Linked DNA regions of Homo sapiens. The protein of the gene in region 2 interacts with the protein of the main gene of each other region in a biochemical or structural test. Each region holds a gene or a part of one and is shown on either strand. Other genes may lie near its edges.

Region 1 (4,226 bases), on a different chromosome or scaffold from region 2:
AGATAAACACCAGCTGCCTGTCTTCTGGTTACACAAGAAGAAGACCTGGACAATGACAGACCCCCTTCTCTGAATTGGTTCCACTCATGCTTTGTCCCTAAAGTCAGAAAGTACCTTGCTAGTAAAGGGGCTGCCCTTTTTTTTTTTTGGAGACAGTCTCGCTCTATCCCCCTAGCTGGAGTGTAGTGGCATTATCTTGGCTCACTGCAACCTCTGCCTCCCTGGTTCATGTGATTCTCATGACTCAGCCTCCTGAGTAGCTGGGATTACAGGCGCCTACCACCACGCCCAGCTAATTTTTGTATTTTTAGTAGAGATGGGGTTCTGCCATGTTGACCAGGCTAGTCTCGAACTCCTGACCTCAGGTGATCTACCTGCCTCGGCCTCCCAAAGTGCTGGGATTATAGGCATGAGCCACCGTACCTGGCCAAGGGGCTGCCTTTAAAGTTCTTTTGACTTTAGACACTGTCCCTGGCCACCCAGAACCCAGGAGTTCAACATGGAAGGTGTCAAAGCAGTCTACTTGCTCCCAAACATGTTTCTAATTCAGCCTTTAGATCAGGAGTCATAAGGACCTTTACGGCTCAATAGAGATGATACTTTGTGAAAAGAAAATGTCAACACTGTGGAAGAGAACCCCAACAGAGAAAATATCATGAAAGTTTTAAAGGATAACACACTGAAGAGGCCATCCCTTCTTTTTCATTACAGAAAAAGTTATGAAAGCCATCAAGGCTGAAATAATAAATTCCTGTTGGAGGAAACTCTCCAGATGTTGTGCATGATGTCACAAAATTTGTAACAGAGCCAATCAAAGAAATCATGAAAGAGATTGTGGATATGGCAAAAAAAGTGGGATGAAGGGTTTCAAGATACGGACCTTGGAGAAATCCAAGAGCTAATAGCCACCATATCAGATAAATTAACAGAAGATGACTGGATGGAGATGAGTGCTTCCAAACCAGTGCCAGACGATGTGGAAAAAGAATGTAGAACTAGCAGTGTCAGAAAACATATTGGTAACAGACTATCTGGTGGAAGGGTTCTGATTACCCAAGACTGCTTTTGATTTCTTTTATGACATGGATCCTTCTCTTACATGGGCACTGAAACTATAGCAAACGGTGGAAGGAAGATTGGTAATGTATAGAAACATTTTTAGAGAAATGAAAAAGCAAGTCAGACAGAAATTAGGCTGTATTTCGTAAAGTTACATTGAGTGTGCCTCCCTCTTCTGCCTCCCCTTCTACCTCTGCAACCTGACCCAGCAAGACCAACCCCTTTTCTTCAGCCTAGGTAATGTAAAGACAAGGAGGATGAAGATGGTTGTGATGATCCACTTCCATTTAATGTACAGTAAACGTATTTTCTCTTCCTTATGATTTTCTTAACATTTTTTTCTCTAGCTTACTTTATTGAAGGAGCACAGTATATAATACAGATCACAGACAAAACGTATGACAATCTACTGTGTATGTTATTGGTAGGGCTTCTAGTTAACAGCAGTAGTTAAGTTTTTGGGGAGTCAAAAGTTACACATAAATTTTCAACTGTGGGGGGAATCAGCAACCCTAACCACTGTGTTGTTTAAGGGTCAACTGTAGTTCTCAACTCTCTTATTTTAACTTGTTTCTGCCATAGTTAATTACAAATTCAATTTCTACAAATATATGACAAAAAATTGAAATTTGTGTATCCAAACTTGTGAATTATCCAAATTTATTTTAAATACAGTGTGTTAAGCTAAATATTCAACGTTAACCTTAATTTTCCTGATATATATCCAAAGACCTATTAAAATTTTATAAATAATCATTAAGCTAAAAAGCACTAATATAAAAACCTACTCAATATGGAATACACATTTTTAAAAAACTATCTATTAAATATCTAGATTTTATGAATTCGTTTAGTTGTAACTACCACTTGTTGATCAACACACTCAAGTATTTTGAAGGAACTCTTGTGAGACTGGGAAAGTATACTTAACTAATGGAATATTATTGTATAATGATATAAATATCTGAAAATCCTTTCTTTTATAGAAATAAAAAAATTTCAAAAACCATTAAAAAAAAAAGAACCCAAAACACCTTTTTTTTTTTTTTTTTTTTTTTTGATACGGAGTCTAGCTCTGTCGCCCAGGCTGGAGTGCAGTGACGCAATCTTGGCTCACTACAACCTCCGGCTCCTGGGTTTAAGCAATTCTCTGCCTCAGCCTACAAAGTAGCTGGGATTACAGGTGCGTGCCACCATGACTGGCTAATTTCTGTTATTTTTAGTAGAGACGGGGTTTCACCATCTTGGCCAGGCTGCTCTTGGACTCCTGACCTCATGATCCACCCACCTCAGCCTCCCAAAGTGCTGGGATTACAGGCGTCAGCCACCGTGCCTGGGCACCAAAGGAAACTTCTTACCATTAACTGCTTCAGAGTCAAGTTCACCTGACTACATCAGCTGTATTATATACTACAGTCTATGTTTATGTATTTTATGTCTCTGCCTCCTTCAGTCTGTTTATAAATATAGGCTGAGTATATGTTCTTATATTGAATGCTTATTATATAGCAAGGATGTCCATATGAAATAAAGAACAGTAGTTCAGCCTTTGCAAATATTTAAAGTGCTTCCAATTTGACATTATGTACAGCATTGTAGTGAAAATCTTTGCATGTAAAATCTGGTCCAAATTACTACTTCTTTGAGATGTTCTTCACTTGTGCACTTTCTAGACACTTCTTTAAACACTTGACAATGATTTAAAGATAAATGAGTAGGAGAAATAATAGGATATGACAACTCTATACTCAACCATAACAAAAAAATATCAGCAACAGAAATGGGCTGAGCACTAACTCCTAGCACTAACAGAAGAAAAATAAAGGAATGGAGCTAAAAGCTACAAGCACTTCTTCATACCTGTTAAGTATTCAAGTTCTTGAGATAGTCTCTCATTGGTTCTAATTAAGTCTCTTTTCTCAGCTTCTAATTCTTCCTTTGTTCTTGTAAATTGGCTCTGTCATATAAAGAAGTAATAAGTAAGAAAATCAAGTAGAGCAATACAGGAAAGCGAACATAGAATTGTCACTTTAGTTAACATCAGCTGTAGTGTAAATGACTGGCTTTCTCTTATAACTTACACATCAAAGTTAAAAAATACCCGTAATTCCAATGTTTCTATTTAAATTTTGGATTTTTAAAACATTTTTACTAGGCTTATGAAAATTTTTCTCATATCTCTTTTAATCACATGGAAATGTCCTAATAACTTAGAATATCACTGTATTTACACCTTAGTTCAAATTATTTTTCAAGAAAGATTCCTAAAAATTGAATTACTTAAAACTTTTAATATATTTTGTCAGCCAGGTGCAGTGGCTCATGCCTGTAATCACAGCACTTTGGGAAATCAAGCTGGGCCGATCATTTGAGTCTAGGAGTTCAAGACCAGCTTGGGCAACACAGCGAAACCCAGTCTCTACAAGTAGAAAAAAACAGCCAGACATGGTGGCACATGCCTGCGGTCCCACCTACTCAGGAAGCTGAGGTGGGATGATCATTTGAGCCCGGGAGGCAGAGGTTGCAGTGAGCCAAGACTGCATCACTGCACTCTAGCCTGAGTGACAGAGTGAGACCCTGTCTCAAAAACAAAAAACTTGTCAAACTGCTTCCCAGCAAAACAATGGCAATCTACATGTTTTTGAGTTAGAAATATCTATCTCAAGCTACCTATGTCAGAACTGTAGGTTGCCTTTTAATATTCTTGTTTCCTGTGTAGAAGCTTTTTAGTTTGATGTAGTTCCGTTTATTTCTTTTTGCAGCTTGAACTACTGATGTGATCCAAACAATCATTACCAAGGCCAATGTCAAGAACCTTTCCCCTATGTTCACTTCTCTGAGTTTTATGGCTTCAGGTCTTACATTTAGATCTTTCATCCATCTTGGCTTGATTTCGGTATATGATGTAAGCAACACAAACATCCAACATTCATTTCTTCAAATGTGGAAATCCAGTCTTCTCAACACCATTAATGAGGAGACGATCACAACTCCATTGGGTCTTCTTGGCACCCTTGTTGAAATTAGTTGACCATATGTTTGGATTTATTTCTAGGCTCTCTATTCTATTCCATTGGTCACTTTTCTGTTTTTATGTCAGTACTGTACTATTTGGATTACTATAGTTTTATAACAGTTTTCTAAATCATGAAGTATGATGCCTCCAA
Region 2 (4,226 bases):
TGAAAAGCACAAAAATAAATAAGTAAATCAGCCATGAGCAGTAGCACGTGCCTGTAGTCTCAGATACTTGGGAGGCTAAGGTGGGAGGATGGCCTTGAGCCCAGGAGGCGGAGGTTGCAGTGAGCCGAGATGGTGCCACGGTACCCCAGCCTGGGTGACAGAATGAGAACCCGTCCTTTTTTTTTGAGACGGAGTCTTGCTTTGTCACCCAGGCTGGAGTGCAATGGCACGATCTCAGCTCATGCAACCTCCACCTCCTGGGTTCAAGCGATTCTCCTGCCTCAGCCTCCTGAGTAGCTGGGATCACAGGTGCCTGCCACTATGTCCAGCTAAATTTTTTGTATTTTTAGCAGAGACAGGGTTTTGCCATGTTGGCCAGGCTGATCTCGAACTCCTGACCCCATGTGATTCACCCACCTTGGCCTCCCAGAGTGCTGGGATTACAGGTGTGAGCCACTGTGGCTGGCCTGCGAACCTGGTCTTAAAACAAGCAAGCAAACAAGCAAACAAACAAAACTCATGACAGTACAACATGTGAACCTGTGCCCAGGTCGGGGGGTGGTTTGGGTGGGGTATAGTTCAAAGGTTATTGGGATAATATCTAAAATGTGAATATAAACTGTGCATTAGATACTGAATCAGTATTAAGTTTCTTGATTTTGAAAACTGTACTGTGGTCATGTTAGAGAATACTCTTAAGGCAGGGTTTTTCAACCTCGGTATGACTAACATTTTGGGCTGAGAAAGTTTCTGTTTGGAGGGCTGTTCTGTATATCGTAGGATTTTTAGCAGCATCTCTGGCCTCTTGATGCAGGGAGTACCCCTACCCCTCACTGTGACAACCCTGCCACATGTCCCCAGGGAACAACAGGACCATGGTTTGAAGTAAAGACATACTGAAACAAGGTGAAGGGGTGTATCTACAATTTACTCTCAAATGACTCAGAGTGCGTGGGAGTGCCCACACACATGCACACAAAGAATGATAAAGCAAATGGGGCAAAAGATAAAAAATCGGTGAGCCTGAATCTGGGGTAAAGGGTATTTAGGAGTTCTATCTGGCGGTTCTACAAGAGTGTTCCAGAGACTCCTATGGGTTCCCTCTAGAGGATCTGAGAGGTCACAGTACATTTATTATACTACTATGACATTTTCATCCTTTTCAGTCACGAGTGAAAAGAAGATTTTTCCAGATGCAATATGATGAGTGATGATGTGTACATGAAAATGTGACACTTGGAATATCTGTGTAACTCAGTGAACCAGTATTTTCCAAATACGCTAAAAAATCATGCATGAGTATGAGTGCAAGGTAGACTAATGGATTTTAACGAAATAGTATCAAGAATTCACTGATATGATTTCAGATTCCACACTGCAATTAACCTTTAAGAAACCACCACTTGTTTAAACTGGGGGTAGGATCAAAGAATAGCCACAAGTGGCTGAAAAGACTACTAAAATTTCCCTCCTTTTTCCAGCTACATACCTGTGTGAAGAGTTTTCCTCTGGCCATACCACCCTGAACACGCCCGATCTTGTCTGATCTCGGAAGCTAAGCAGGGTTGGCCTGGTTAGTGCTTGGATGGGAGGAATAGATCTTGAATTTCATAAATAGCACTCAGACATCTATTTTTAGGCTTATTTGTAAATGTCTTGATAAAATGTCTGATTACTGTTACATACTAGGGAAAAATCTCACTTTTTTGTGTGTTATGCTTTTAAGCATAGATTTTGTTTGCTAAAATGTTATTTAGAATTTTGCATGTATTTTTCACTGGCTTGCGATTTTTCTTTTTATATAACATCTTTTTTAAAGGGTCTTTATTAATATTGCACTCAAGTTTTCTTCTGTTTTCTATGCTCTGAATTCAAGCAGTTAAAATCCATGGGAAAGAGTTTTCCTTGACATTTTTGAAGAACTATGCATGTAATATTATATTGATTATTAAATTGATTAAAGCCTGAAAAAAAAAAAAAAAAGAGTTTTCCTCATGAACTTAAACCAAAACAACATATTTGACAGACTGAATGCAGAACCAGATGAGAATCCAACTGTCTTCTATTAAGCCAGACATTAAAGAGACTTGCAAAAATGAAAACAATGCCACTCTTCTCACTAAAAGGTTGTTTTTCGTTTTGCTTTTTTTAAAGACAGGGTCTCACCCTGTTGCCCAGGCTGGAGTGCAGTGGCGTGATCACGGTACACCGCAGCCTCAATTTCCTGGGCTCAAGAAAATCTCCCATCTCAGCCTCTTGAGTGGCTGGAACTATAGGTGCACACCACCATGCCCAGCTGATTTTAAAATTTTTTGTACAGATGGCAGGGCACAGCAGCTCACACCTGTAATCCCAGCACTTTGGAAGGCCGAGGCAGGTGGACCACAAGGTCAGGAGGTTGAGCCCATCCTGGCTAACATGGTTAAAACCCTGTCTCTACTAAAAATACAAAAAAATTAGCCAGGCGTGGTGGCGGACGCCTGTAGTCCCAGCTACTCGGGAGGCTGAGGCAGGAGAATGGCGTGAACCTGGGAGGCGGACCTTGCAGTGAGCTGAGATCACACCACTGCACTCCAGCCTGGGTGACAGAGCACGACTCCGTCTCAAAAAATAAATAAATAAATAAATAAATTTCTTTTTTGTACAGAGTCTCACTATGTCACCAGGGCTGGTTCCAAACTCCTGGTGATCCTCCTGCATTGGCCTTCCAAAGTGTTGGGATTATAGGTGAGAGCCATCATGCCTGGCCTCACTAAAACGTTTTTATTGTAGAAAATAAACTTATTCTTAAGAAAAACATGTAATTTATCTTAACATGTAGTGGGTTTACTATTTAAAAATTAATTAATACATTTTAAAGTTTCATATTGTAGGCCGGGTGTGGTGGCTCATGCCTGTAACCCCAGCACTTTGGGAAGCCGAGGCGGGTGGATCACCTGAAGTCAGAAGTTCAAGAGCAGCCTGGCCAACATGGTGAAACCCCATCTGTACTAAAAAATACAAAAATTAGCCGGGCATGGTGGTACACACTTGTAGTCTCAGCTACACGGGAGGCGAGGCCGGAGAATCATTTGAACCCGGGAGGCAGAGGTCGCAGTGAGCCAAGATTGAGCCATTGCACTCAAGCCTGGGGGACAAGCGCCAGACTTCTCTCCAAAAATTAAAAAAAAAAAAGTTTCATATTGTAAATAACAATAGATATAACCTACGTAACTAAAAAAAGGTGTGTGGGTCCTTGACTTTTTTTTTTTTTTTGAGACAGAGTCTCACTCTGTCACCCAGGCTGGAGTACTGTGGCAAGATCTCGGCTCACTGCAACCTCCACCTCCCAGGTTCAAGCGATTCTCCTGCCTCAGCCTCCAAGTAGCTGGGATTACAGGTGTGTGCCACCATGCCCAGTGCATTTTTTGTATTTTTAGTAGAGACAGGGTTTCTCCATGTTGGCCAGGCTGGTCTCGAACTCCTGGGCTCAACTGATCCACCCGCCTCGGCCTCCCAAAGTGCTAGGATTATAAGTGTGAGCCACCATGCCCAGCTGGTCCTTGATAATTTTTAACAAATGTAAAGGGATCTTGGCTGGGCGCAGTGGGTCATGCCTGCAATCCTAGCAATTTGGGAGGCTGAGGTGGGTGGATCAGTTGAGCCCAGGAGTTTGAGACCAGCCTGGCCAACATGGCAAAACCCTGTCCCTACAAAAACATACAAAAATTAGCCGGGCATGGTGGTACACGCTTGTAGTCCCAGCTACACAGGAGGCAAGGCTGGAGGATCGCTTGAGGAGGGGGTGGCTACCAGCCTGGGTGACAGAGAGAAACCCCGTCTCAAAAAAAAAAAAAAAAAAAAAAAGCCAGGCACGGTGGCTCATGCCTGTAATCCCAGCACTTTGGGAGGCTGAGGTGGGTGGATCATCTGAGGTCAGGAGTTTGAGACCAGCCAATGTGGTGAAACCCCATCTCTATTAAAAATACAAAAATTAGGCAGGCGTGGTGGCAGGTGCCTGTAATCCCAGCTACTTGGGAGGCTAAGGCAGGGAGAACTGCTTGAACCTAGGAGGCCGAGGTTGCAGTGAGCCGAGATGGTGCCGTTGCACTCCATCTGGGTGACAGAGCAAGACTGTCTCAAAAAAAAAAGAGGCTGGGCGCAGTGGCTCACACCTGTAATCCCAGCACTTTGGGAGGCTGAGGGGGGTGGATCACTTGAGGTCAGGAGTTTGAGACCAGCCTGAC
Region 3 (4,226 bases), on a different chromosome or scaffold from region 2:
AAAATCAAATGTACACTGTCACACGATAGCATCAATGACACTCCATAACCTCTGTGAACTACATTTTGCAGGCCTTTGGCCAGGTAAACACATGCTACTGCTTGTCTCCCATTCTACTCCTCGTCCCCATCTAGGACAAAGGTTTGCAACCTTCCAGCCTCAACACCAGCAGGGTAAAAATCCCCATCTGTAGTAGCAACTAAATGACTAAACTAAGGCAGAAGTGGCAACACAGGGTGCAAGAGGGACTGGCCAACTGGTCACATTTAGTTTAAAAAATACCCAGATTCAGATATACACGCATCTGTGTCACTGCCTTGTTCATCCATTCTAAACCACAATCCACAACAGACCAATAAACAGGCAATAATACTGCAATGTGAAGAAGTTAAGCAGTTAGCTGGGCACAGTGGCTCACACCTGTAATCCCAGCACTTTGGGAGGCTGAGGCGGGCGGATCACTTGAGGTCAGCAGTTCAAGACCAGCCTGGCCAACATGATGAAACCCTGTCTCTACTAAAAATAAAAAAATTAGCTAGGCATGGTGGCACATGCCTGTAATCCCAGCTACTCAGGAGGCTGAGGCAGGAGAAACACTTGAACGTGGGAGACAAAGGTTGCAGTGAGCCGAGATCATGCAACTGTACTCTGGCCTGGGCAACAGAGCGAGGCTCCGTATCAAAAAAAAAAAAAAAAAAAAAGCAGTTAATCTCAGGTTGTTCTTTACCATTCTTTCAAACCCCACCTCTCAGCCATTTACTGACAATAGACACCTCTCCCTTCTTCAGCCTGGTCTACCACTTCTGCCCCAGAAGCCAAAAGAAAATCTATTTAAAACAAAAACAGGTCTGGTGCCAGTGGCTCATGCCTGTAATCCTAGCACTTTGGGAGGCTGAGATGGGTGGATCACTTGACGTAAGGAGTTCAAGACCAGCCTGGCCAACATGGTGAAACCCTGTCTCTACTAAAAATACAAAAATTAGCTGGGTGTGGTGGCACACACCTATAATCCCAACTATTTGGGAGGCTGAGGCAGGAGAACTGCTTGAACTTGGGAGGCAGAGGGTGCAGTGAGCCGAGATCACACCACTGCACTCCAGCCTGGGCGACTGTGAGACTCTATCTCAAAAAAAAAAAAAAAAAAAAAAGCCCACAAAAACAAAAATCTTCCTCCTTCATGGTTCTCATCCAATTCAGATCTGCCTGTGTATGAGTGGAGGTTGACAGCTTTCTCAGGCAAGGATGATAATGAAGTAAGAGAAATGGGTCAAAGCAGAAAGAATAAATAGTGTCTCCCTGTTACATATAGCTTTGCCTCTCTCCTCAGTACCCTGATAAAAGACCCCACCAAACCCAGTCTCTTAGTTTTCCTAACTTACCCCTTCCAAACTAAGCAAAGGCTATCTCACAGGTAACTCTGACAAACCTGACTTACCATGAGATAGGGAACATATTTGCTGCCATAAAACAGGGCCACACCAGACTGGTAATACAAATGTTATCCCACATACTCCTGAAGGGTCCTTCATTCTTTCTACAGTACATGAGCTTCAACTTAGCCTTACAGCCAATTTTCTGAAAACATACAATTCTGGTCCCAGTGGAGAACGTAGGGAGGGTTGGGGAACCTGTGTTTCTGAATAGTGGGAATGTTCACCTTTTCTGTTTCCTCATGAAGTCAACTCCAAACTAACTGCATTACAGCTTCCTGCCTAGGAGACCATGAAACAAATACACACATGCATGACATTTGACTGTGGAAGCCAAGAGGATGAAAAGAGGCTTTTTTGGGGCCGGGGGGAATGGGGTCTCCCTCTGTCGCCCAGGCTGGAGTGCAGTGGCACAATCTTGGTTCACTGCAACCTCCGCCTCCCAGGTTCAAGCAATTCTCCTGTCTCAGCCTCCCCAGTAGCTGAGACTACAGGTGTGTGCCACCACGCCCGGCTAATTTTTTGTATTTTTAAGTAGAGACGGGGCTTCACCGTGTTAGCCAGGATTGGTCTTGGTCTCCTGACCTCGTGATCCGCCTGCCGTGGCCTTCCAAAGTGCTAGGATTACAGGCGTGTGAGCCACCTTGCCCTGCTGAAAAGAGGCATTTTATAAGTTGCAATAAACAATATAAAAAGTCAGTTATACTTTATTAGAATACTTTAGAGCTCAGTCTCTGGATCATGATTTATACTAAGAATACAAGGGAAATTATCTAGGGTTTTCATCTCACCAATCTCATTTGAGGGGCAAATGTTGTCAGCTACATCCAAAACTGAATAATAATTACTCTTTCCAAGACAAAGAGGAACAACAGTATGTAACATGAATAGGAAGCTTTCAAGCAATGAAAATAAAAATAATGTCTTGGCCAGGCGCGCTGGCTCAAGCCTGTAATCCCAGCACTTTGGGAGGCTGAGGTGGGTGGATCACTGAAGGTCAGGAGTTCGAGACTAGCCTGGCCAACATGGTGAAATCCCATCTCTACTAAAAATACAAAACAGCTGGGCATGGTGGTGGGTACCTGTAATCCCAGCTACTAGGGAGACTGATGCAGGAGAACTGCTTGAACCTGGGAGGTGGAGGTTGCAGTGAGCCGAGATTGCGCCACTGCACTCCAGACTGGGCAAAAGAGTAAGACCTTATCTCAAAAAAAAAAAAAAAAAAAAGTTTTATTTTATGAAAGTGTTGACTTCCCAATTTAGCTTGGCCCCAATTTACCTACATCTTTCACTACTAACACTACCTCTGAAAACAGAAGGGGATCTGTGAAGCAATACCAGAACATTAGGCTTAGAATCCACAAGCCTTGGCAATCTCACTTTTAGCCCCTTTAGTCAAGTCACTTTACCTTTCTGAGTCTTTGAGTTGCATCTGTAACTGAGAACAATATCTTATAAAAGTATGATAAAAATAATGTTCTGTAACATGCTTCCCCCACCTGCTTGTCCTCAATATTCAAATCACTTCTAGAGAAATGAGCCAAACACCCTTTAAAATGAAACGTACACACATACTCACAGCAACATATTACCCAATTCATATAAGAATGTCATCTTGGTCAAATATTTTTCAGCTCATCTAATTAGAAGGAAGCAGTTTGTTTTTTCCATACTCACGTAACAAATGTTAAAACTAACATTTTAATGACTAATGACTGCACTTTATTTATAGTGCTTGCAAAGCAATGGAAAACAGCATACCTAGGTAAAGAACTTCTTTGAAAAAAAAAAATCTGGCTATCAAACAACGTTCTCCACATGTTTGGTAAGCACAAAGCCAAGAAATCATACCCAAGCTAAAACAAAGCTGAAGTCACATAATAAAAGATTGTTTACTGTAGTCAATGCAAAAGCAAGTTGATACTATTTACTCCTTTCAATCTGTAGATTGAAACATACCCGGCCAGTTATACTGATGTAATGCTGATTATAGAACTGAGCCTGAGGCAAAGCTGCACACCAAATTATTAAACTATCAACAAATTATGATTCTCAAGATGACAAAGTATACTATACACTAACAACCTTGGCTTTTGTATAAGTCTTAATCACATCTTAAAATTCTTTTTAGCTAGTCAGTAACATAAAAACCATGTTCACTCTTGTCTTTTATAAATGCATACTTAGATTCTCTCAGTTCTGAACATGTAACACTGTTAATTGTTGATGGGTTAACAAAATAATGGCCTCAGGATTTTTTAGTAACAATGACCTCTTATGGTATACATCTATTTTTACTATTTAAATATTTCCCCTTCAAATCAGGCATTTAGGTGGGTAGAAGGAAGGCTTTTACATTATCATTCCTTCTTATGATTGAAGAAATTATCAACTATTAACAAGTATCTTTTTTCTCAAAAAATACTATTATTATACACTAATGAAAAAAATTAGCCCTCAAATTTTCAAAATTACTCTTTAGAAGGCAATCACACCAAAAAGCACATATGTAGCTTTCACCCAGAGATGCCATTGGCACACAAATATTAACAGTGAAAGACAGCTTTTGTTTTACTAGAAAGACTTGTACAAAAAACATCAGTTCATGGATTCTACATACCCAAAAAACTGTCTTCAAATTAATTTAGTTTGGAAGTTTAATATCATCCTGAAAGTTGAAATACTTACTTACCAGTTATAAACAGTATGAAGGTTGTATAATGATATCCACCAAAACGGATCCATTCCACAGAAACTTTTATATAACACCTACTCTCAAATATTATTTCCATCTTT
Region 4 (4,226 bases), on a different chromosome or scaffold from region 2:
AAACCAAAAATCAAAAAAAAAAAAAACAAAACCCTGAAATGCAGAGAGGAGCTGTAACGTGTCCAAGGTCACACAGCCTGGGAATTGGGTCCTGGTCTCCTCTGTGCTCCCGCGTTGTCTTCTAGTACAGTCTGCAGGGTTCACCTTTTCCCTGACTCAGTCTTCTCCTAAGAGTGACAAAGAACTTTGTGAAAAGCCTCCTGCAGTCTCAGGATCATGGATTTTCTGCCCAGAACCAAACCCTGTATGGGCTCTGCCAGGTCACAGGGAGGCAGCGGGTCCCACAAGGACTTTCCAGAAACCTTGCCCAGAGCTTAGACCAGTGGGATCTAGAGCCTGGGCAACTTCAGCAGGGCCCCAGGGGTGGCCAGGACTCATCCTTCATGACCACCAGCCCCTGCCCGGGCTTCACGACGCTCCCTGAGCTCCAGCAGTCTAAGCCTCTCGCTTTTTTGGTGACCTGAGCACCCCGGGACATGGGCCAGACGTACCTCCTCTGGAACCTGCAAAATAAAGGAGATGCAATTCAGATGCCGGAAAAGCAGTGTAAGAAAATGCATCACTGTGCTCTTCTCTTCCGCTGCCCCCGTTTTCTCTGTAGCATTAGCAATATCAACTAATTCAACCGAGTAACTGTTTTCCAAGGAACTCAAAGCCTCTCCAACACTGAAGAAAATCCTCTTATGTTGATAAGCCCTCACCTCCCTTCCTAACTTAGAGTATAAATCTCAGGCATGGAGATGTGAAGAGACTTGTCTAAGGTGGCAAAGCCCATATCGGCCTCCCACGCAGGGAAAGAGGGCCAGGCGGGCCCTGTTGGAGGAGGCAGCAGGCGAGGTGAAATACACCTGGGGCTAGGAGCCAGCAGTGCCGGCCTCTGTCAGCCAGGTCCAGTGGTCCGGTCTGCATTTCCTTGAGCAAGTCCCCTCTCCTCTCTGGCCTCAGTTTTCTTGTCTCAAAAATAGGACCCAGTGATCCCCAAGGTCCGTCCCAACTCTGAAAGCCCGTGGCTGCATTTCCAAGCCCATAAGCCGGTGGGAGGGAAGCTGTGTATCACAATTCCATTTGCATTGTCCTTGGATCGATTCTGTCCCAGATCCGAAGTCCTCAGCTCCTGTTTCAGAGACGGAGGGGTTTAGGCCTATGTGCATTTTTACAACTGATGGTATTTGCCCAGCTGCCTTTCTCAGGTGGGTGAGCAGGTAGAAGTCAGTGTTCCATGGGTGGCAACGTTGCCAGTGGTGAGCACAGAGCCTCCTCTCCTGACACCTCGTCTGGATTCTCCCAGGGGTGTGCTGGGAAACTGGCTCTTGGGAGAGGGTGGAAGCTCTGATTTGTACTATTTGCCACTTTCCATGGTGTAAACAGGTCCCTGCCAGGGCCATTTTTCAGGCTGCTGAAGGACCTCAGCAGACATGGGTCAGAGAAAAGAGATGGGCTTTGGGAGCCGGGAGGAGCCAGCTCCAGCCCATCAAACCGAAATGCATCCCCAGTCAGTGCCCTAAAGCCTTCCTTTCATCCCTCTCCTCGCATGGCTACCTGCAGCCCACGAAAGCTCTTTCTTGTTTTGCAGAAGGGAGTGGGGAGAGCCCAGGGGCCCAGCGTGTTGGGTGAGTTCTCAGTGCCCCAGCCCCAGCCTGAGGGCGGAGAGGAGACTGCAATGCGGCTGCCCTCTGGCTGTGGCTCAGAGTGAAAGGAAAACACGCATACAGCAGGAGTCTGTGTAGGGATCTGGGCTCCAGCCATCAGAGCCCTGGGGGGAGCATCATGACCAATGTTCCCCTGTCCCCAAGCTCTCCACCATCCAGGCCAATGACTTTGCCGAGCTCTGAGCAGCTGCACCCATGGACTCAGTCCTGCCCTCACAGTATTGCCTGATGTGGCCCAGTATATTCTGTTCTTTGAAGATGGGTAGGCTGACCAGAATGCCAGGCCTGGAGGATGTGAGAAGGGATGTGGAGGCCATTTGAGAGTGGAACTCCCTGCAGGCTGGCTGTGGGGGGCCCGTGAAGGGCTTAGAAGGCCCCACAACCCAGAGCCACTGCAGGGGCCTCCCTACGGGGGCTACTCCTGAGCCTGGCCAGGCTGGTAGTTTTGTTTTTCCTTGGCCAAGCTCCCGGTCTGGGATCCCATCCCCAGTTCTGCCTCTGGGGTCAGCTTTCCATGCAGGGGCTGAGATGAACACATGGGGAAGGGAGGGCAGGAGCCCCTGCGCTCTGCACCTCATAGATGCCAAAGCCGATGGTGTGCATGTCCTCGCCCATCTTCCTCTGCCGCCGTCGGTGCTTCTGAATGAGCCCCACCAGGAAGGTGCAGCCGCTCTCCCCATCCTCCTCGTCCTCATCCTCCTCCTCCAGCTTGATCAGGTACTGAGGGTTCATCCAGAATGTGTCTGCAGCCAGAAAGGGGCAGAGGAGCCCAGCCCTGAGCAGGAATGCATGGGGGTGGGGGGTGGCCCTGGTCTCAGGCTTGGAGGCTTCTGAGAGGGATGGAGATAAAGGGAGATGGTGGGAGGTGGTGGGAGATGGTAAGAGGTGGTGGGGGATGGTGGGAGATGGCAGAGTATGGCAGAAGATGGTGGGAGACAGCGGGAGATGTCAGAAAATGGCGGGAGATGGTGGGAGTTGGCAAGAGGCGGTGGGAGGCTGTGGGAGACAGTGGGAGATGGTGGGAGATGGCAGAGGATGGCAGAAGATGGTCAGAGACGGCAGGCGATGTTGGGAGAGGCTAGGAGGTGGGAGACACCAGGGTTGGAGTGTGGACTGCAGGCTTTGTTAGGCTGGAGACGGGTGACGGTAGCTGTGGAGAGAGGATGACCTGCACTTGTCTGAATCTAACAGGAACCTAAATTAGAAACTTTCTCTTGCAGTTCTCTCTCTGGCTCCAGGCTGGCTTGTCTTGGGGACTGGTCTGTCACTCTGGAACGCAGGGTGGTTAGAGCTGTGGCTTCCCCTCATGGTACCTTCTCTTCACTGGGCTCTGATGGGGAGCCTGGGGCGGGGCTCGGCTGGCCTGGGGGACTCCGGGATCTGCTCCCTGCACTTGCCGGTCGCCGCCCCCTCGGTGAGCCCGGAGGCCAAGAACATCCTGTGTATAATTCCAGACTCTTTCTTGTTCTGCGTCCCTTGTCCTCTCAGGCCTATTCCCTTGCCCTGCTCCTGATGTCTCTGCCCTCTTTACTTCCAAAACCTATTTATTTAAAAAATCTAAGATTCATTCATGTTTAAGGGGAATTATGCTAATTGCCTTTCCATACCTAATGGGATAAAACCCTAACTGTGAAATTACAGGCACCATCTTGTGTAGGGGTTGGCAGCTATGGCTCCGAAGGCCGCTGCCTGTTTTTGTAAATAACGTTTTATTGGAACGTAGCCACGGCCATTCGCTTAAGTATGGCTGCCTTTGGGTTATAGCAATAGAGTTGTTGTTATAGAGACTGAGTGGCCCACAAAGCCAAAATTATTTACTATCTGACCCTTTAGAGGGAGTTTTCCGACTCCTGATCTAGTGGGTAGGAGGGGTCCCTTGTGGGGGGCAGAGGGCCTTCCCAGCGCCTCTGGGACTGCCACTTGGTGGCTGCATACTTGAGGTGAAGGAGTCCGAGCCCCAGAACTGTAGGCCAGCTAGCCGCAGTCTGACTACTTGCTCTGTGGCCCTGGTATGCGACTTAGAGGCTCAGCTTCCTCATCTGTCACAGAGAATCACTATGTGACCATGATCTGCTGCCACTGTACTTACACAGTGACTCCTCAGTCAGGGGGCCTGGGTTCAAATCCCAGCACGCTCTGTGGCCTTCAGCAAGTCACTAGCCTCTCCAAGCCTCAGTTTCCTCATCTTAGAGATGGAGGTGATAAGAAAGTGCCTGCCTCAGAAGTTTGTTGGGAAGGTTAGATAGAATGTTATGCAGGCTGAATATCCCTTATCTGAAATTCCTGGGGCCAGAAGTGTTTCCTATTTTGGATTTTTTTGGATTTTGGAATATTTGTATATACATAACATATCTTAGGGATGGAACTCAAGTCTAATGACAAAACTCATTTCTGTTTCATATATAATTTATACACATAGGCTGAAGGTAATTCTATAGCATATTTAAAATAATTTTGTGCATGAAACAAAGTTTTGACTGTGTTTTGACTGCGACCTGTCACCTGAGGTCAAGTGTCGAATTTTCCACCTGTGGTATCATGTTGGGGCTGAAAAAGTTTTGGATTTTGGAGCATTTC
Region 5 (4,226 bases), on a different chromosome or scaffold from region 2:
TGTAATAGCAAAAACTGGCAGGCATCTTAAAAGTCCTGGGGTTAAATAACCAGAGGTACAGTCATAAAATTGAATACTACAAAGAACGAGATACTTTAAGAGGTACTAACATGGAGAAATGTCCCAGATATGCTGTTAAATGAATAAAGCAAGTTGTCGAAGAACATGTGGAGAATTATTCCATTAGGCAGTGTGTTATTAATAATTATAACAATAATAATAAAAATTCAGACATCTATAGAGAAAATCTGTAAGGATATAACCTAAACTGTCAACACTTATTTTTGAGGTAATGGAAATTAGAGGAGACTCACTGCTTCAGACACTTCTGTATTATTTAATTTCTTTAAACAAATAGTTTGTTATTTATTTATTTATATTTGTTTTTTACTATCTACTGAAAGGATAAACAAACACTTTGAAGCATTATCCTAATCAGAAAAAATAAAGCAGTAATTTGAGGTTCACTCTAACCCAACGGTTAATCAGTGAATAAGATCTTCAAATATTTGTGGGTCAAATCCCGTCTCTCCCAGTTCTTCTCTGTGTGACCTCTTAACGTATAAGCCTCAGTCCCCCTATCTGTAAAATAGGGAACCCAACAGTCCCTGCCTCAGAGTGAAATTAGGAGAGATGGCAGACACACAAAAGTAGCACAGATCCTGATCCCAGGATAGGCCCCATGAATGTGAATGCCTTTTCCTCCTTCTGGACCCCTTCTGGCTGGGCCTGTAAGGGTGGGAGGTGGCTGGGAGTCTAGCACCTAGGTGGGAGTCGGGGTATACCTGGGGTCCTGGTCGAAGGTGAACTGTGTTCCTTGACCGTGGTGCACATCCCAATCTACGATAAGGACCCTAGGAGCAGCAGAGAGAGGGGACTCTGTGCAAGGAGATCAAGGTGAATCTGGGGGAAGAGCCCAGACCAGGACACCCCACCCCATGCCACCCCCATCACATCTGCCCTCTGTTGCTGACCTCCGGATGCGGTGTTTCTGTTGAGCATAGCGGGCTGCCACAGCCACGTGGTTGAACATGCAATAGCCATCCATAAGACTGTGCTGGGCGTGATGTCCAGGAGGCCTGGGCAAGACAAGGAAATAACAGCTTGGAGTATGTGAGGGGTCCTCCTCTGCAGAGACAGACTGTCCCCTGCTCTCTAATCCTGGACCACCAATTCCTTTAATGCTGATGCCTAAAAATCTGCCGGGAACTGAGTAATGGAGGCCCTCAAACTCTCACCCCCTGCCAATCTACCCCTCTGTCTCCAAAGGAGATTTGAAAATGTTCACTAAAATGATAAAGGCCGGGTGCGGTGGCTCAGGCCTGTAATCCCAGCACTTTGGGAGGCCGAGGTGGGTGGACCACGAGGTCAAGAGATCAAGACCATCCTGGCCAACACGGTGAAACCCCGTCTCTACTAAAAATACAAAAAATTAGCTGGGTGTGGTGGCGGGCGACTGTAGTCCCAGCTACTTGGGAGGCTGAGGCAGGAGAATCACTTGAACCTGGGAGGCAGAGGTTGCAGTGAGCCAAGATTGCATCACTGCACTCCAGCCTGGTGACAGAGCGAGACTCCGTCTCAAAATAAATAAATAAATAAAAATAAAAATAAAATGATCAACGCATTCATTCTCATACCCAGTCATTCTGCTGCAGGAACTTAGCCCACAACCTGTGTTTTAAAAAGGGTGAAGTAACATTTTTATTTTATGTTAGTGTAAAATAAAATTTTATTTTTATAAAGGTACTAGCATATTTGCTGTAGCATTTTTTTAAAACAGCAAATGACTGGGGAGAACCAAAATGCCCATTAGTCGGGGACTGATTAACATAGAGTGCATTTACACAATGGTGTTCTACCGGGCTCCAAGATACATACTGTTAGAGAAAGGTTTCCAAGATGTGTAAGTGAAAAGATGGTACGAAGGGAGTATGTCATGTTACTACCATTTGTGGTTAAAAACAGGGGAGGGAGGAGAAAGCTTTTGCATTTCATCAGTTCTGGGATGCCAATGATGATAAGATGTACCATGATTTTACATGCCAAAAACGAAGCAGAAAATACTGCCAATGGAATTCTGAGATGTCACTGTTTGTAAGATGCATCTGGATTTCAAGATGTTACAAATATGAAAAAATGTACACCTTAGAATCAATGAAATATGGTATTTATTTCTTGAATAAGACTTTGTGGGAGGACACATGAGTCAGTGGTTCCAATGACTACCTCCCATGAGAGGAGGCAGGTGTCTGGGTGACAAGGATGGGAGACAGATTTTTAATTATATTCTCTTTTTTACCTTTGGATTCTTGAATCACATGAATATATTACCCATATCAATACATTTTACACTTGAAGGAAGGACTTTAAAACAATGTAAAAAGTCAAATGCTGTAGAGTCCTACCTAATGATGGCCATGCCATTCCGGATCTCAGCCCCCAGGACCGCATCCACCAGCCTGAGGACAGAGCCTGAGGCCAGGCAGGCACAGGAGTATGAGTTCTGGAGAGACAGTGGGGAGCCAGAAAGGGAGTAAGGGAGAGAACAGCCCTATCCACTCAGCTGCTTCCCCCAGGGTGGGGTGGGCATAGGGATGGGGACCCCAAGATTGCCACCATTCCCTGCCCGCAGAGTTCTCATCCATACCGGATGCAGATAAACTGAGTCGTAGGTGTCTGCTAGGACACGGAGTTCTCCCTCATTCATGTACTGGGTTGTTTCCATCAGATCAATATATTCTAGGCTAGACACAGATGGGAGATGAGATTCAGGGCCCTGTCTCTTCCCCAACTGAGCTGTCCATACACCAACCCCCTGGTCAAATTAGGGCTTGGCTCCCCCAACTGTCAACCTGAAGGAATAGCCAGGATATAAGACACATTCTGTTTCTTCCCTAGCCCGCCTCAGTTCAGGTAATGTTCTCTGCTCCCCTGCAGTAGCCACACCAAATCCTACTTTCAGGCCTTTGGCCACACTGGTTCAGCTGTCTGTTCTTCCCTTCCCTCAGTCACCCTCTTCATCTGACTCACTCTTTTTCTCCTCTTAAAGTTCAGCTCAGATACCTGCTCTGGAAGCTAGCTTTCCTCAAGCCACATAGCACTAGGCCTCTAAATCTGGAAGCCCCTGGGGGAACCCCGATCACTCTGTCCACACATCCACCATCTATTCACACAATCAGATCATGATAACAGTAATAGCTCATCATGGGCTGATTATATATCAGGCCCTGTTCTAAGCACCTGACACACATCAAACTCTCCTGAGGAACTTATGTTTACTGGTCCCCTTGTTACAGGCGATGACACAGATTCAGAAAGGCTCAGCGACTTGCCCAAGGCTGGCTGCAGAGACCATGACATTGCTTCCCAAAGCGTTTAGCTTGCCCTGGTTTGTCCAGGGCAGGCTCCTCCCCATCCCTACAAGGCTCCCAAGCCTTCACCTGTGAACCAACATCAGCTCTTCCTTTTCAGCAAACCGGGCCTGGGGAGAGATGAGGAATAAAGTGGGGTAAAGGGTTAAGGCATGGGCTGCACCCAGGTCAGGTCAGCTCCCTGCCCTTCACCCAGAGTGTTGGCTTGGGGGCCTTACCTGAAAGGACACGCAGCGATCTAGGAGGCCCTCCTGGATCAGTTGCTCCTTGATGGCATGGAGCCGCTCAGGGCCTTCCGGGAAGCTGGGGAGATGGAGTCACAGTCACAGATGCATGAGGACACTGGGGAGCTCCACATCTGTTCTCTCCACATCTCCCCATCCACCCTTCCACAGCTGCTTACCCCAAAACTGTGGTGTCAGTCCTGCCTCCCATCAGCTCTGGTGTGTGACCCTCTCCTCACCACTGCCACTGCTATTACCATACCCTCCCGCCTGGGCTGTGGCGGCATCTCCTCGGCCTCCCTGCTTCGACCCTCGCCACCTCAACGGTCCTTTCTGTGCATAGCAGCTAGACACTGGTTAAAACCCTAATCAGTTCATGTCCCTTCGAGGCTCCCATCCCATTCTGAGTAAAAGCCAAAGTATTACCCATGCCCAGAAGGCCCTAAACAATCTGTCCTCCATCACCTCTCTGACCCCATCTCCTACCCCTCCCTCTTTCCTTTGCTTCGCTTCACCTACACTGGTCTCTTCCCTGGTTCTCAGTTGAACCAAATACTCTTCAGCCAGCCCTAGAACTTTACTCTAGCTGGCCCCCCCACCCCCGCCTAGAATACTCTTCCTCCAACTGTCT
Region 6 (4,844 bases), on a different chromosome or scaffold from region 2:
AGGAGGGGGACCACAAGGCCAGCCAGGAGCACCTGGACCCAGAACACTGAAAGCAGCTGGTGGGTGTTGGGTGGTTGCCCCCCTCCTCACCCGCCTCCCCTCGGTCCATCCCAGTTCTCCCACTCGCATTCCCAGCACACCACCTACTCTGCCTCCAGCCACAGACAGCGGCACAGCGCTCTGGACAGCTCCCCAGGGTGCTCCTGCAAGGGACGGGGGTGGCCTGAGGGATGAGGGGGTGCATGCCAGGAGGGGCTCCCTAAGACTGCCCAGCATCTGCTCCATCCTAGAGACCCTTCCCTCCCCAGGCCTCTCACTCTACCCAAGAATGTTCCTGTCATTGTGTCCCTGGTAACAACCACAGACACTATTCACTGAGCTTCTTCTAGACTACATGAAGAGTCACTAGAATGTCAACCCCAAAAGGACAGGGATTTTGCCTATTTTGTCCCCTGTTGCATCCCCAGCACCTAGAACAGTGTGTAGAACATAGCAGATATTCAATAAAGACTTGAATGGAGGCCGGGCGCGGTGGCTCATGCCTGTAATCCCAGCACTTTGGGAGGCCAAGGCGGGTGGATCACGAGGTCAGGTGATCAAGACCATCTTGGCTAACACGGTGAAACCCCGTCTCTACTAAAAATACAAAAAATTAGCCGGGGGTGGTGGTGGGCTCCTGTAGTCCCAGCTACTTGGGAGGCTGAGGCAGGAGAATCACTTGAACCCAGGCAGCAGAGGTTGTAGTGAGCCAAGATCGTGCCACTGCACTCCAGCCTGGGTGACAGAGCAAGTCTCCATCTCAAAAAAAAAAAAAAAAAAAAAAAAAAAAGACTTGAATAGCTACAGAAAGTCCCTTACCTCTGATCAAAGGCCTGTGAATTAGCTGCTAACATCCCATGTTGAGAAAGGGACACCACACATCAGAGACGCGAATTCTCTGCACTTGCCCAAGATCCCCTAGAGAACTAGCAGCACAGTCCTGACTCTCAGCCCTTTGTATTTATTTATTTAATAGATTTAATATTTAATATTTAATAGATTTAATATTTATTTATTTATTTAATAGGTCTCGCTCTGTTGCCCAGGCTGAAGTGCAGTGGCACGATCATAGCTCACTGCAGCCTCAACCTCCTTCAGCCCAAGTTTTAAAGCTATATCAATGTGACTCTCTGTGTAAGTGACAAATCATCTGTAATATCTGGCTAGGATCGCTGGGGGGAATGCTGGCTGAAAGTGAAGGCAAATACCCTTATGTATCTGGCTAAGGCGGATCCAGATTGCTCTTTTGCCATCTAAGTTTGCCTGAAGTGGGGCCCACCCATCACAGGGCCAAGGCTCCCTCCTCCCTATCCCCTCTTCCTATTCCTGAACCAGCAGCACCTGCCCCACCCCAGGCCCCTGCTCTGCTCCCAGCCGCCCTTCCCTCCATCCCACGACAGCTAGGAATTACGTGGGGCAGGACACGCAGCCATCGCCATGTTCATAGAAGCCAGGCAGGCAGGTCCCACAGTCAGTATCTCTGCGGGAACCTGCAATCCAGGAGAGGCATGCGTCACCATGGGACAGGAGTGGGTCAGGCAGGGAGAAGGGGGTCTGGGAGTAGAGAGCCCTGGGTGGGGGTACTCACAGAGTAGCCGTGTGTGGCGGTGCAGGGCCCCGCAGTCTAGGCATGGTTGGCAGTAGAAGGGTGAACTGCTGACACATTGGCTGACCTGGCACTCCACAAACCAGCCTGGCTTACAGCCACAGCGGGTGTCGGCCACTGCTGAACAGTTCTCCAGCGCCACCTGGGAGGCTGGTGGGGGTGCAGGGAGATGGGGAGTGGAGAGTTAGTCAGGGCCAAAGGCTCCCATGGAGAGGCAGAGGCATTATCCCAAGATAATGGAGACAGAAATAGGCGAAAGACAGACAGGTACAGGGCTACCCTAAAAAAGAGAGAAGCTCAGAGATTAAGGCCGACCAGAGGCCAAGGCACATGGAGAGATGGGAAGGTCACCAGGAAGAGAGAAGGGGCAAGGGCACCCTGAAGGAGGATCAGGGTGGAGGGTTCTGGCAAGGGTGGGTGCAGGACCCTCACACCCCAAGTTTGGGCCCGAGCCAGCCACTTCCTTCAGAAAGGCCTGTCCTTAGGAACTCCCTGCCAAGCACTGAGAAGCCCCTCACCCTGCTCATCACAGGCCTGGCAGCGGGCACATTCAGAATTATGGTGGTTCTCCCAGGCCAAGAAGGTGTCTTGGGGACACACAAGGCAGGTGGAGTTGCCGCAGGGCTCCGTGCAAGGGGCCTTCAGGTAGTGCCCTGTGGAACCAGGCAGGGGTCAGGCAGGCAGAGGGGCTGCCCAGCAACCCCCGACCTGCTTCCCACCCTGCCCTCCCTCCCTCTTTCTCTCCAGCTCCCTACTTCTCTGTCAGCCTACCCCTACCTCCCCTGCCAGCCTCCTCTTACCTCCCGGGCCTGCCCGCCACCTCTCCAGCCCTGCCTGCCCCATGCCTCTCCCACCCCTGTGGCCACTTACCCGCTGGGCAGCCTCTGCAACAAAACAGACCAATCTTCTTGTGGAAGTCACCGGCACAGTCACACCTGGGGCTACGAGTGCCGCCCTGGGCCCGGGCCCCCAGCAGCACCAGGAGGAGCGCCTGGGGGACAGGTGCTGCTGACTCTCAGCGCAGCTGCCCACGTGGGGCCTCTCCCTGCTGCGTCTCCTCCATTTCAGAGGCCCCAGCATTTGCCCACAGAGCAGCCCACTTCCCAGGCCCCGGGCAGAAGGGGTGCCCATGGGTGGAGAGGAAACTAACTTCCTTCCCCCCGCGCACACACCAGGCTTCGGAGGGGGCGCTTACCAGCCCCTCACAAGTTTCCCCTCCACCAGAGCAGGAATCCAGCAGCGCCCCCACCCCCACCCATGCTTTCTGTTGGGGGAGGGACACTGATAATGCTCTGCCTGGGGCCCCCAGACCCTCCTGGGAGGGGTTTCCTCTCAGTGGAAGGGCTACGCCCTGGAGGAGCCTTTAACGAGATCGGAAAGGGCGGCCAACCCAGCCCCCAGTGAGGCTTGGAGTGGAGACGCGCCCGGGGCCCCTTCCTTCACCGAGGCTCTTGGGACAGGGCTCAAAGCTGCCCCTAGCCTCCTGCGTCTCAACTCACCGCCGCCACCGCCGCGCAGCCCCGCGGCCGCTGCTCCATAGCCCTCCGACGGGCGCCCAGGGGCTTCCCGGCTCCGTGCTCTCTGCCCGTCGTGGTTCCGCCTTCAGCCCCGCGCCCGCAGGGCCCGCCCCGCGCCGTCGAGAAGGGCCCGCCTGGCGGGCGGGGGGAGGCGGGGCCGCCCGAGCCCAACCGAGTCCGACCAGGTGCCCCCTCTGCTCGGCCTAGACCTGAGCTCATTAGGCGGCAGCGGACAGGCCAAGTAGAACACGCGAAGCGCTGGGCTGCCTGCTGCGACCAGGGGCACAGGATAGAGCTGCATCTCGGTCCCCACCCCGACTCTCGCCCCAACCCTGAGAACCACTTCAAGGTAGAGCCAGGGCAAGTGACTTCTCTCTCGGCCTCCGCGTCCCCAGCCATGGAGGAGGTTGGGCCAAAAGTACCGCAAGGGGCCAAGCGCAGTAGCTCAGGCCTGTAATTCTAGCACTATGGGAGGCAGAGGCGGGCGGAACACTTGGGGTCAGGAGTTCGAGACCAGCCTGACCAATATGGTGAAATGCCGTCTCTACTTAAAATACAAAAACTAGCCCGGCGTGGTGGTGCACACCTGCAGTTCCAGCTACTAGAGTGGCTGGGGCAGGAGAATCGTTTGAACCCGGGAGGCAGAGGTTGCAGTGAGCCGACATCACACCACTGCACTCCAACCTAGGTGACAGAGTGAGACTCTGTATTAAAAAAAAAAAAAAAGTTCCTGAAGGGACCCCCATGGAGGACCCACCTTCCCAAGAGGGCTGGCCTGAGTGTGGGAACTGGGCAGATTCAGCCCTGAATCCCCGGGGGGCACCTGGGGAGAGGCTCTGATGGTGGCTGAAGGTGGGGAAGTCTGGGGGTGTTGGTCTGGTGGCACCCCACACCCCATTACTTCCCAGTGCTTCCCATGGCAAGCTCCATCCGTGGCCCATCCGTGGCAAGTGGAGGAGCACAGGAACACAAGGAGGCCGCCCTGAACTCAAGTGCCCCGAGTCACTGGGCCCCAAAGCAAAGGACTCTTCCCAGTGGAGTCTAGACAAGTCTTTATAAAAGAACCAAAAGCTCAATAAATACGTAACTTCACAGAACCCAGCCCAAGCCAGGGGTGGCCTGTGGGACTGGGAAGGTGGGGGCAGGGCAGGAGTGAATCCCACTGGAGGCCAGTGAGGGTAGAAGTAGGATGGGCAGCCTAGGAGCCCAGCCCTGAAGACTCGAGCTGAGCTGGTAACTTCGGGGAGTAGGTGACGAGGGGCTGCCTGGGCAGGTGGGGTGGTACTGTGGCCTGGGCCTCCTCCACTCCATCCAGTCCGGCAAAGCGCAAATCGGGCCCGGGCGTAGGCAGGGATCCTGCCCAGCATCCGGCTCATGCATACAGGAGGCAGTAGCTGAAGCAGGTGCCGGCACGCCCCAGGAGGCAGGCTGTCTGCTGTCTCTTGGTCAATGGCACTCTTGGGGGCCTCCCTCTGCTCAGACCTCCCTACAGGGTGGGGAGGGGACAGAGTCCTTCTTTGGCTGACGCCATTCAGAGTGGCTCTGGTCACCCTCTCTTCCCCACGGCACTCCTCAGGCCCCTTCACTGCTGCCCACCACAGCCCCCTGCGCCCAGACACTGGGCAGGGTTCAGGCTCCCTCCGCCATGACCCTCCCCAAATGCGATGCTCCCAGGCATGAGT
Region 7 (4,226 bases), on a different chromosome or scaffold from region 2:
GCAAGTATAAATGAGACCATACATTATTGCAACTGCCTATTGACCAGTCACTTGTGTCCTTACCTCCTACTCTTTCAATCTGCAGACTCTATCTAGCATATTTTCATAGCACTCCCATGCTAATGGCCCTATAGTGGCTCTCCATAATTCCAAAACACCTTCACAGGCAAACAAAGCTCTTTGTGATTTGGTCTCTCTACTTACCTGGCCACATGCCTCACATTTTTTATTCTAGTATACTTTTGCTTTTTATACTTTTAGTAGAGATGGGGTTTTGCCACGTTGCCCAGGCTGGTCTCGAACTCCTGGACTTAGGCTATCCACTCACCTCAGCTTCCCAAAATGTGGGATTACAGGCATGAGCCACCGTGCCCGGCCTTTATTCTAGTATACTAAAAAAGGTGTAGGTTCCCAAATGTGCCATCCTTTCTCTCACCTCCAGGGCTTTGTTTTCTCTGTTGGAACGAAGACAACTTACACTTCACCTGGATGACTTCTTAGTCTTTCTTTAAATATTACTTCCTCCTGAAAGCCTTCCCTGACTCTTCTTGTTTGCTCCTCTAACATCTCATAACCACTTTTTTCTTAGCACGTACCATGTTTTACTGTAATTGCCTTTTTACTTTTCTATCTCCTTCACTAGATTATAAGGTTCTTGAGGTCAGGGGCTTTGCCTTGCTACTGAATGCCCACTTTCTTTTTTTGGAGACAGAGTCTCACTCTGTCACCAAGCTGGAGTGCAGTGGCATGATCTCAGCTCACTGCAAGCTCCGCCTCCTGGGTTCATGCCATTCTCCTGCCTCAGCCTCCCGAGTAGCTGGGACTACAGGCGTCTGCCATCACACCCAGCTAATTTTTTGTATTTTTAGTAGAGACGGGGTTTCACCATGTTAGCCAGGATGGTCTCAATCTCCTGACCTTGTGATCCACCCACCTTGGCCTCCCAAAGTGCTGGGATTACAGGCGTGAGCTACCGCGCCTGGCCCGAATGCCCACTTCTAACACAGGATTTGTCATAGGGTTAAAGATATGCAGATATAGATATAAATATAGATATGAAATAGAGGCATAGTAGGGCATGGTATAGAAGCCCCAGACCCCACAACTAAATAAGTGGTCATGAGAATGGGAGACATCTAAGAAGTATTGTGTCACAGTGGAGAGGGCACGAGGTTTGGGGCCAGACAGACCTAGACTTGAATTATAGCTTTAGGTCTTGTTATATACGTATCCTTGATACTGTTTTACAAGCTTTCTGAACTGTTCTTTCCTCATCTGTAAGAGAACTATAGTATGGCTAGAGATCTTTCAAAAATAATACATGAATAGTGATATTGATATAAACAGATATATTATTCATACATTTGATACTTGTTTTTTTAGCTCTACCAGGTAAAGTAGATGGCACAGATGTGTACTCTTTCTTAAAAGGTAGAACTTTTGAAAAATGCATAATTATGGAAGTCTCCTTATTAAAATTTATTTATTTATTTATTTACTTATTTATTGGGACAGGGTCTCACTCCGGTTGCCCAGGCTGGAGTGCAGTGGCACGATCACGACTCACTGCAGCCTTGACCTCCCGGGCTCAGGTGATTCTTCCACCTCAGCCTTCCAAGCAGCTGGGACTACAGGTGTGCACCACCACGCCTGGCTAATTTTTTGTATTTTTAGTAGAAATGGGGTTTAGCTATGTTGCCCAGGCTAGTCTCGAACTCCTGAACTCAAGCAATCTACCTGCCTTGGCCTTCCAGGGTGCTGGGATTACAGGCGTGAGCTACTGTGCCCAGCCTGCTTGTTAAAATTTAAAATTTTATTATCCTTTAGCAAGTATAAAAATGTGTTCAAATGATTTGGTTTCTGATTCCCTTTCATTTGTTTTGCAGATCTCTATTAAGAGAAAAATACAAAGAATAAATGAGTAAGGCTCTTGAAACCATTGAATTGTACAAACTTTGGTGGTTTTAAATCTGGATTTGTGAATAGCTGAGCCCGTTCACTGTCCCATTTTGGAGAACCATGAGGCATTCTACAATCTAGCCCTTCTCCAGGTGGATGCTTACCTGTCCGCCCAACCACATTTATCTGATTCTTCAGGGACCCGCTGACTGAGGCAATCATGATCTGGTACTGCTCCCCGGCCTCCAGTCTGTGGAACGTGTGCTCAAAGACGTGCTTGGGAATAGTCTGAGAGTCAACCTTTTGACTGTGCCTGAATGCCGACACCGTGTAGGAATCAACGTCTCCCCCACCAGGAGTCCAGTTCACCGTCAGGCTATCTGTTGCTCCATTGGGAGAAATGTGAATATTTTTGACAGCACTAGGAACTAAAACAGAAAATAAATTTAAAAGTCATCACTTAGAGAATGAACTGTTGAAATTTTCAAACAAAGTTTTGAATGCTTCTGATGTTTTGGCACCCACTGAGAGAACTCACATGAAAAAGAAAGTAACAATTTGCCACTTTTCTCTGATTTTTCTGTGTGAACTAAAGTTGATGGGGGAAAGCTTAGGGGGAAGTCAAAGCCGGTGAGTGGAAATGAGGAATGCTAATTATATAGCGAGGGGCTAGTTAGGGTGTCTTGGTCCAAGTTTTGGTTTTCTCACTCACTAGCTGTGGGACTACAGGCAAATTACTTGACCTCTGTAAGTTTTAGTTTCTTCATTAGGAAAAATGGCAGTGATGATAATACTAACCAGCCCATAGAGTTGTGAAGATTGATTCTTTTTTAATTTAATTTTATTTTATTTTTGAGGTAGGGTCTCTGTCTGTTGTCCAGGCTGGAGTGCAATGGCATGATTATGGCTCACTGCATCCTATACCTCCTGGGCTCAAGTGATTCTCCCACCTCAGCCTCCCCAGTAGCTGGGACTACAGGCACGTAACACCGTGCCCGGCTAATTTTTTTGTATTTTTTGTAGAGACAGGGTTTTGTCATGTTGCCCAGGCTGTGCTTGAACTCCTGGGCTCAAGCTATCCTCCTGCCTTGGCTTCCAAAGCATTGTGAAGACTGAACAAGATGTAGACATAAAATGCTTTGCTGTGGGTCTGGTTCATGGTGAACTGTCAGTACATGTTAACTACTATGGCAACACTCCTAAAAGAGTTCTAAAGAAGTGATACCCAAGTAACACTTAATTCTTAATCTGTGTGCCTCAGAAGCACCAGCTGATCACATCAGTTCATTGCTATTTCTCTGAAAGCACCCTCCAACCCCGCCACTCTCTGCTGACATCATACTTTATTTTCATTCATCCAGGTTGGACAACATCATTGTCACTATCAACATGACTTTGTCCCTTCTTGCTGTCTCCCTTTTATCCCTCCAAATGCTCAATCGAAATACCTGAACTACCCGAAAGTTAAATGCACCACTGCATCTATTCAGGTTCAAGAACAGTATTTCACATTACCTGTGAAGCCCTCAATGAAGGCTGACTGCTGTACATCCCCGCTAATCGTCAAGACAAGAATTTTGTATTGGCGGCCTGGTGTTAGGGAAGTAAATCGATACTCGGTTGCGGTATTTACAAGGTGAAAAGGAGGAAATACTTTCATGTCATTGAAGAGCAGCTGGATCTCATATTGGTCGACATCCCCATTAGCTCCTGACCAAGTCACATGCAAGTCCTCAGTGCTCCTGTTGCGCAATGTTAGATCCTTAACAGGCTCTGGAACTAGGGAGAAAAATGAGAAGACATTTCAGGAAAGGAACTGATCAGAGTTTACCTACATAATAATTTATGAATCACATTCAAGGAACTGGCAACATCTCCCTTCCCCAAATAAACCACTAGCACTACTTCATGCATAATTAAACAAGAAAAATTGGAAGCAACTATTAACATTGTGGTTTTTTCCTGACATAAATGTTACATGATCAGCATTGGTAGAACATAATTATAAAATGAGTTATGATCTCAATCATAAGATAAAACAAGAAGTCTAGAATCTAAATGCCATGATGCAGGAAGATAGGGAAGAAAAATGGGACATTTAGCCTTCTTGCTCCCTCACTATGTTTGCTTTTATCTACCAATAAATATTCTGTAATTATAGGCCATGGCTTGGCTGAATGATGTTAGCACCAAGTGAGACTTACTGGGAATGTAATGTACTAATGAATAAGCAGAAAAAATTCAAGGTTCAGATAAATTACTAGAGACTTTCAAGTCCAACCAACTGTCAGATTTTGCAATCGTTCCACTTACTTGTTCTCCCATTC

What was found.
Region 1: of the proteins of MAPK1 (region 2) and TPR, one has a biochemical effect on the other in vitro, tested with the Homo sapiens proteins (2 studies listed by BioGRID).
Region 3: of the proteins of MAPK1 (region 2) and PPP2CA, one has a biochemical effect on the other in vitro, tested with the Homo sapiens proteins (2 studies listed by BioGRID and IntAct).
Region 4: of the proteins of MAPK1 (region 2) and CAPN2, one has a biochemical effect on the other in vitro, tested with the Homo sapiens proteins (one study listed by BioGRID).
Region 5: the proteins of MAPK1 (region 2) and HDAC6 form a complex in vitro, tested with the Homo sapiens proteins (2 studies listed by BioGRID).
Region 6: of the proteins of MAPK1 (region 2) and TNFRSF25, one has a biochemical effect on the other in vitro, tested with the Homo sapiens proteins (one study listed by BioGRID).
Region 7: of the proteins of MAPK1 (region 2) and PTPRB, one has a biochemical effect on the other in vitro, tested with the Homo sapiens proteins (one study listed by IntAct).

What each region holds. Positions count from the first base shown.
Region 1 is NC_000001.11:186,364,967-186,369,192, forward strand, and holds part of TPR (nucleoprotein TPR), read right to left. Parts: intron 3,017-4,226; coding exon 2,920-3,016; intron 1-2,919.
Region 2 is NC_000022.11:21,790,930-21,795,155, forward strand, and holds part of MAPK1 (mitogen-activated protein kinase 1), read right to left. Parts: intron 1-4,226. UniProt on the Homo sapiens protein: Serine/threonine kinase which acts as an essential component of the MAP kinase signal transduction pathway. MAPK1/ERK2 and MAPK3/ERK1 are the 2 MAPKs which play an important role in the MAPK/ERK cascade.
Region 3 is NC_000005.10:134,219,331-134,223,556, forward strand, and holds part of PPP2CA (serine/threonine-protein phosphatase 2A catalytic subunit alpha isoform), read right to left. Parts: intron 1-4,226. UniProt on the Homo sapiens protein: Catalytic subunit of protein phosphatase 2A (PP2A), a serine/threonine phosphatase involved in the regulation of a wide variety of enzymes, signal transduction pathways, and cellular events.
Region 4 is NC_000001.11:223,753,646-223,757,871, reverse strand, and holds part of CAPN2 (calpain-2 catalytic subunit), read right to left. Parts: intron 2,393-4,226; coding exon 2,223-2,392; intron 504-2,222; coding exon 492-503; intron 168-491; coding exon of another isoform or gene 141-167; exon of another isoform or gene 1-140. UniProt on the Homo sapiens protein: Calcium-regulated non-lysosomal thiol-protease which catalyzes limited proteolysis of substrates involved in cytoskeletal remodeling and signal transduction. Proteolytically cleaves MYOC at 'Arg-226'.
Region 5 is NC_000023.11:48,804,886-48,809,111, reverse strand, and holds part of HDAC6 (protein deacetylase HDAC6), read right to left. Parts: intron 3,675-4,226; coding exon 3,590-3,674; intron 3,482-3,589; coding exon 3,441-3,481; coding exon of another isoform or gene 3,437-3,440; exon of another isoform or gene 2,745-3,436; coding exon 2,648-2,744; exon of another isoform or gene 2,504-2,647; coding exon 2,406-2,503; exon of another isoform or gene 2,152-2,405; intron 1,080-2,151; coding exon 975-1,079; intron 855-974; coding exon 786-854; intron 1-785.
Region 6 is NC_000001.11:6,462,925-6,467,768, forward strand, and holds the start of TNFRSF25 (tumor necrosis factor receptor superfamily member 25 isoform 2 precursor), read right to left. Parts: upstream 3,250-4,844; 5' UTR 3,184-3,249; coding exon 3,145-3,183; intron 2,637-3,144; coding exon 2,516-2,636; intron 2,299-2,515; coding exon 2,164-2,298; intron 1,796-2,163; coding exon 1,628-1,795; intron 1,530-1,627; coding exon 1,451-1,529; coding exon of another isoform or gene 1,447-1,450; exon of another isoform or gene 1,187-1,446; intron 224-1,186; coding exon of another isoform or gene 204-223; coding exon 148-203; coding exon of another isoform or gene 141-147; intron 47-140; coding exon 1-46. Other genes in the region: PLEKHG5 (pleckstrin homology domain-containing family G member 5), read right to left, coding at 4,639-4,648. UniProt on the Homo sapiens protein: Receptor for TNFSF12/APO3L/TWEAK. Interacts directly with the adapter TRADD. Mediates activation of NF-kappa-B and induces apoptosis. May play a role in regulating lymphocyte homeostasis.
Region 7 is NC_000012.12:70,567,612-70,571,837, forward strand, and holds part of PTPRB (receptor-type tyrosine-protein phosphatase beta), read right to left. Parts: coding exon 4,213-4,226; intron 3,840-4,212; exon of another isoform or gene 3,679-3,839; coding exon 3,415-3,678; exon of another isoform or gene 2,328-3,414; coding exon 2,064-2,327; exon of another isoform or gene 1,887-2,063; intron 1-1,886. UniProt on the Homo sapiens protein: Plays an important role in blood vessel remodeling and angiogenesis. Not necessary for the initial formation of blood vessels, but is essential for their maintenance and remodeling. Can induce dephosphorylation of TEK/TIE2, CDH5/VE-cadherin and KDR/VEGFR-2.